2 separate regions of the Homo sapiens genome follow, and region 1 is linked to region 2. The links come from fine-mapping of genetic effects on gene expression. A gene starts in region 2. The other region holds a variant in brackets. All regions are shown on one strand. Distances are between the middles of the regions.

Region 1 (2,907 bases), 47 kb after region 2:
TTAGTTGGGTGGGCCCACATGACAGGGGCACTTGGCTGGGAGAAACATTTCCCTGTTGCACAGTGGCAGAGAAGGACTTTCTCCAGACCTGTGACCTTTAATGTGCTGGCTGGGGGTGAGGAGAGGGAGGAAGGAGGAATGGGCCCAGAGGGCAGAGTGACCTTGAAGATGGCAGATGCACTGAGTGCTTTCTGCCAGGCACTGCGCCCCCATTTTACTTGTGTTATCTCCCCTAATCCTCCCAATCACCCTAGGCGGGAGAAGAAGGAACATAGTGAGAAAAGACAGCTACACAGCTTCCCTTCTATCCTTCCCCTGGGAGCTCAGGACCTGTCGTAGGAGTGTGGCTTTCTGTCTTTACCCTGAGTAAATCCTCCACGATTAAAAAAAAAAAAAAAAAAAAAAACCTTGATGTGAATGTGAATCCATACCATTCAATAACAAGGCAGGATTTTTCTTCCTCTGTCTTCAGCAGTTTACTCTTTTAAGGGAATAAAATGAAAGATAAGCAAGGGTTAGCAGGAACATCTCTCGAAGATGACTTTCCAAAGGATTCAGTTCTGTTTTTCCTGTCTTCCCTGATTATGTCTAAATTACATACGTTCACGATTTTGACTGAGATTTCAGCCATCTCCATTCAATAGCAAACTCCATCCCTACCGATCGTCTATGTGGCCTTGGAAAAGTCATCTGAAGTCTTTGGATCTCAACTGCCCTAGTCTGAAGGAGTTGGATAGAGCAGGAGGGGGTGGGGGCGGGGACATGGGGTGGGGACAGCCTTCCAAAAAGGGTGCTTCTTCAACTGCTTTTTAAGGTAAGGTGCTGAGAATACTATGGAAAGATGCTACAGAGAAGTTGTGAGAAGGCAGAGCCCAGAAGCAGCTAGCAAAGGTGGTCACAGGTGGTTCTTCCTTTGTGGCCTGATTTTCCTTGCAATCTACAGTGCTGGCCCCTCCCCTGCAGATCCAGCTGCCTGTGTTTTCAGAATAGAATGCTAGTCCACAAGCTCTTTCATCCTCTCGGCAAACATTTATCCAGCCCGTGCTGTGAGCCATGCATGGTGCTGGGAGAGAGGACTGTAGTAGCTTGTGGAGTCTCTACTCAGCCATTGGAATTTTTAGGTGCAAATAAAAGATTTAGTTATTTTCACCTTCTCCTAGCCACATTTTAGGAACAGAGTGTCTTTCAAGCCCATCTTTTCTAATTTATTCACTTTAAAAATAACAAGATTAAGACCCAGAGAGGGAAAATTACTTGCCCTAGGTCACACAACTCTTTGTGCCAAAACTAGGTCTGGAACGCAGAACTCTTAATCTTCTGCTTTTTATTACATTGCCCCAAATTGCTTAAAGGGCTACCCAGGGAATTCAGTTCACCAGGGAACATCTTGCTTCTCCAAACATTCTTGCTAACAAA[C/G]ATCTTACTGCACAAGTATAGGAAGATGTCACTATTACAAATTCATAGCACTCATATTAACGGCAAAGCTAAAACATTCCTATAGTCACCCGCCTCCAATTAATTAAAAAGGAATGTGTTGTTTTTGAAGTCTTGCCCTTCCAACCAGCCTTGAAGTAATTTTAAATAGAAAATTTTAAATGGAAATTAAGGCAGTTTTGTGATAAGAGTGCCTGCCCTTTGGTCTGGGGCATCCATTGTGTGAGCTAGTTTTTCAGAGCTGCAGAAGTAACAAGTTGGCAGGATCTCACATAGGAGATAATAGATAAAAACCTACATGTCTGGTTTCAGGACCCCCAGGAAGCTATTGTTGCCCTTCTTCCTTCTTTCCCAGTTCTTTAATCAGTTTCTGGCAGACACCTGCAACCCCACTATTGAAGCTTCATCTCGTTGCTTACATCTGGGCCATGATAAATAAAAGTACCCCAGGAGGAATAAGTGCTTAGCAGTTACCAACAATTCATACTTAAATGTGAATGCTTTCAGAGTTGGCATTGAGAGATACAAGTGGGGAGAGGCATGCTGGCCAAGAGTGGCTGAGGGGTTTAGAGATGCATGATGGTGGAGATAGCAGATTGGGAAGACACAGAGACCCCCAGAAGATGAGCATTTGACTGCCTTATGGCTTTGCCTGTGACTAGGCTGGGGTCCTCAGAATGGAGGAAGAAAGGGAACTAGAGAAATTCTGCATGGGTTTTCCTAATAGAGCATGAAGAAGATCTGCTTGGAATTCCCTGCACACCCACTGATATGGTTTGAATGTGTGTCCCCGCCAAATCTCATGTTGAAATGTGATTCCCAATATTGGAGGCAGGGCCTGGTGGGAGGTGTTTGGATCATGGGGTTGGTTCCCTCCTGACTTTGTGCCCTCCCCATGGTAATGAGTGAGTTCTCGCTCTGATAGTTCACAGGAGAGCTGTGGTTTAAAGGATCCTGGTTCCTCTCTCTCTCTCTCTCTTGCCCCTGCTTTTGCCATGGAAAGTGCCTGCTCCCATTTTGCTTTCCACTATGATCATAAGCTTCCTGAGGCCCTAACCAGAAGCTAAGCAAATGCTGGCATGGCACTTGTACAGCCTGCAGGACCATCAGCCAACTAAATCTCTTTTCAATATAAATTACCCAGTCTCAGGTATTTCTTTACAGAACACAAAAACAGCCTAATACACCTGCATTGTTCAATCCAGCCTCCAGGCATGTGCTTATGCCATCACTTCTGCCTGGATGGCCTTACCTGCCACTTTGTATGAATAAACTCTCTTACCTTTGAGGCTCACATTAGGCATTGTTGCTGCCCCAAATCCTTCCGTGAACCCTTAGGTGGGCTCCTTCCTGTCCCCACTCCACCCATTCTCTACTACTACTGCACTTCAGTGATGACCTGGCCATCATGTCTTTACCTTTTGCTGCCTCTGTTGTGTGATAGCTTCTCAAGAGAGGGACCATGTCTCTTTC
Region 2 (2,907 bases):
AAGTTACTTAAATACTTCATGTCTCAGTTTCCCCACTTGTAAAATTGGGATCATTATACTATTTGTAAATATTATACAAGTTCACACATGTAAAGTGCTCAACATTTTTGCCTAGCACATAATAAGTATTATTACTTATTTTTTTATTAAGCGATAAATTTTTTAATAAAGCTATTAAACAAATACATGTTTTTAGTAAGGAAGGACATAGCACAAACAGGATTAATTAAAGAGAAGGCAAAGAAGACAAAGAGAATTCCACCAGATTCTGGTGCAAAACATTCAATAATTATTTTTTAAAGAACTGAAGGGTGGGAATGTCTGTTGGTGCAACCACTTTAGAAAACCTATGGCAGTGTTTACACAAGGAGAGCATTCTTATACACTACAACTCAGCAAGTCCACTCCTAAGTATACATCCAAGAGAAAAGTGTCTGTGAATCCAACCAAAAGATGTTTGATAGAGAGAATGTTCGTGACAGAGTAGTCATGATAGTCACCTGCACAAATGTCCATTGACAGAAGAATGAATAAGTAAGTGTGTCGGTGAAAATGGATGATACACAACTACACATAGCACAATGGATGAATCTCACAAACATAGTAATGAGCGAAAGAAGCCAGACACCAACATTCCAGGCAAAAAGATCCTATGCTGCTACAAGCCAGAATAATGGTTACCCTGGGACAGTGGAGACGGGAGAAAAGATGTGGAGAGGAGAGAGCAGGAGGAGCTTCTAGGGCTGTGGCTAACATTTTATTCTTCATCTGGCGCTCGTTACATGGGTGGGTTGGATTGTGAAAATTCATTGAGGCATACACCTAAGATATGTGCATCTTTTCTGTGTTTGCATCCTACTTCACTAAAACAACCAGAAGAGAACGGGAATGAAGTAAGATCAGAAAATAAAGGAAGAAATAGAAAGAAAATGAAAGAAGGGAGAAGAAAAATAAACAAACCCAGAAGGCTGAAAGGCATGGAAGCCGCACCTGACCGGGTTGACTCACCCCTCTGCCCCAGGAGCCACCCCTGCCCTGCCCTGCCCGTCCCCAGCACCCTACTCTCCTTTTGCTTAGCCCAAGGATGGCAAATGCCCCTTTTGGTGGGGGTTCTGAGCATCACTAAGACAGGAAGGGCTTTCCAAGTGGGTAAGGCTGGTAGTGGAGTAACTCGGAGGAGCTGACGCTTTATTAAAGAAACAGAAGACTTGAGAGCCATCTCCTCTCTTCCTTCCCCTTCCCCTTTCCCCTTCCTCTTCCCCTTCCCCTTTCCCCTTCCTCTTCCCCTTCCCCTTTCCCCTTCCTCTTCCCCTTCCCCTTTCCCCTTCCTCTTCCCCTTCCCCTTTCCCCTTCCTCTTCCCCTTCCCCTTCTCCTCGACTCTTTCTGCCTTCGCCTCATTATCCGCCCCCAGGACATCCTCTTGGCCTTGGTGGCTTTGCCAGGACCAGCTCTGTCTCCGCCTCCTGCCCTGCGGGGTCTTGGGGCGGGGGGCCGTGGCCCGGCCCAGGCCCGAGCTGCCGGGGTGTCCCCGCCGCGTCCCCGCCCGGCTGACCCCGCCCTGCAGCCGCCGGCTATTTTGGGCGCGTTGGCGGCGGCGGGATCGCTGACAGTCGCGGATCCTGTGACACCTCCGGGCAGCCCGGCACTTGTTGCTCCCACGACCTGTTGTCATTCCCTTAACCCGGCTTTCCCCGTGGCCCCCCGCCTCCTCCCGGCTTCGCTCCTTTTCATGTGAGCATCTGGGACACTGATCTCTCAGACCCCGCTGCTCGGGCTGGAGAATAGATGGTTTTGTGAAAAATTAAACACCGCCCTGAAGAGGAGCCCCGCTGGGCAGCGGCAGGAGCGCAGAGTGCTGGCCCAGGTGCTGCAGAGGTGGCGCCTCCCCGGCCCGGGACGGTAGCCCCGGGCGCCAACGGCATGACAGACTCGGCGACAGCTAACGGGGACGACAGGGACCCCGAGATCGAGCTCTTTGTGAAGGTAGGTCGGGGTCCAGTCTCCCGCCGCACCTGCCGCGCCTCCCGCCGGGCTCACCCACCAGGGCTCGGGGTGCGCTGGACTCCGGACCCTCCCAGGAGGGCGGCGCGGAGCCCTGTGCTCCCCCGTGGCCTTTCCGCAGGCCAGCGCCCCGCTGCGAGGCTCCTGGGCGGAATGGAGGAAGGCAGGTTCCGGCAGGTGGCCGTCTTCTCGGAGAGTTGATCCGCAGTTTGTCCACCCCCGTCCCCGCCTCCGCTGTCACCGCTGCGAGTCCGAGTCCAGAGCCCAGCCCGGACGCGATTCAGGCTGGTCCTGAAAGACGTCTCCAGGTGTCGGGATGCGGCAGAAACCTGGCTGGACCCGTGAACCTTTCCTTTAAAACGGGAGGAGGGGGAGGAATGGGAGAGAAACGTTATTGACACAATGATCTTTGGCAAAGCGAAAATGACATTTCTTAAAATTCTCTTTCTCTCTTTCGCTCAGAGATCCTAAAATAAAAGCCAAGGAGACAAAAGTGTTTTCTTGCTTGGTGACTTGCAAAGCAGAAAACAAGCACTCCATTCTCCGACGTTATTATTTTTGTCATAATCATGATTTTTCAAGGCAGTATCAAGGAAATGTTAGGCGTTTGGTAGTAGGGAGAGCCTCCCGTTCAACCTGATGCAGACAGGGATGAAGGAGCACAGTGCAAATTAAATGAAGTCACCTTGCTCCTTGGACAGAAACTGCCTAATGTCAGAGCTGCTGTACTTTATTTGCAACCTGTAGGAGGAAGGATGGAGGCGAGGCTGCGGCGGCGTTTCCCGGTCCGCCGGTGTAAGGAGAAAGAAACATTTGATCAGCCCTTGGTGCCGACGCTGCAGAAGTAGGGAAACCTGAGGCTGCGGGAGAGTAGCCTCCAGGGCTGAGCAGAAACAGTCGCCAGG

The links. PIP is the estimated chance that this variant, and not a neighbour inherited with it, causes the effect.
Region 1: its variant is fine-mapped to the expression of CLIC5 in tibial artery (GTEx, PIP 0.98).

What each region holds. Positions count from the first base shown.
Region 1 is chr6:45,967,296-45,970,202 of GRCh38, reverse strand. All of the region lies in intron 1 of CLIC5 (chloride intracellular channel 5), which reads left to right. Among named protein-coding and RNA genes, the nearest start is that of CLIC5, 47 kb to the left of the region's middle. The variant C/G (reference allele first, on the strand shown) is at 1,417.
Region 2 is chr6:46,014,557-46,017,463 of GRCh38, reverse strand. It overlaps CLIC5 (chloride intracellular channel 5), which reads left to right and starts at 1,604. Exons shown (of 6, transcript NM_016929.5): 1 at 1,604-1,984. The coding sequence starts at 1,922. RefSeq lists enhancers at 802-1,646, 1,647-2,491 and a silencer at 1,904-1,953.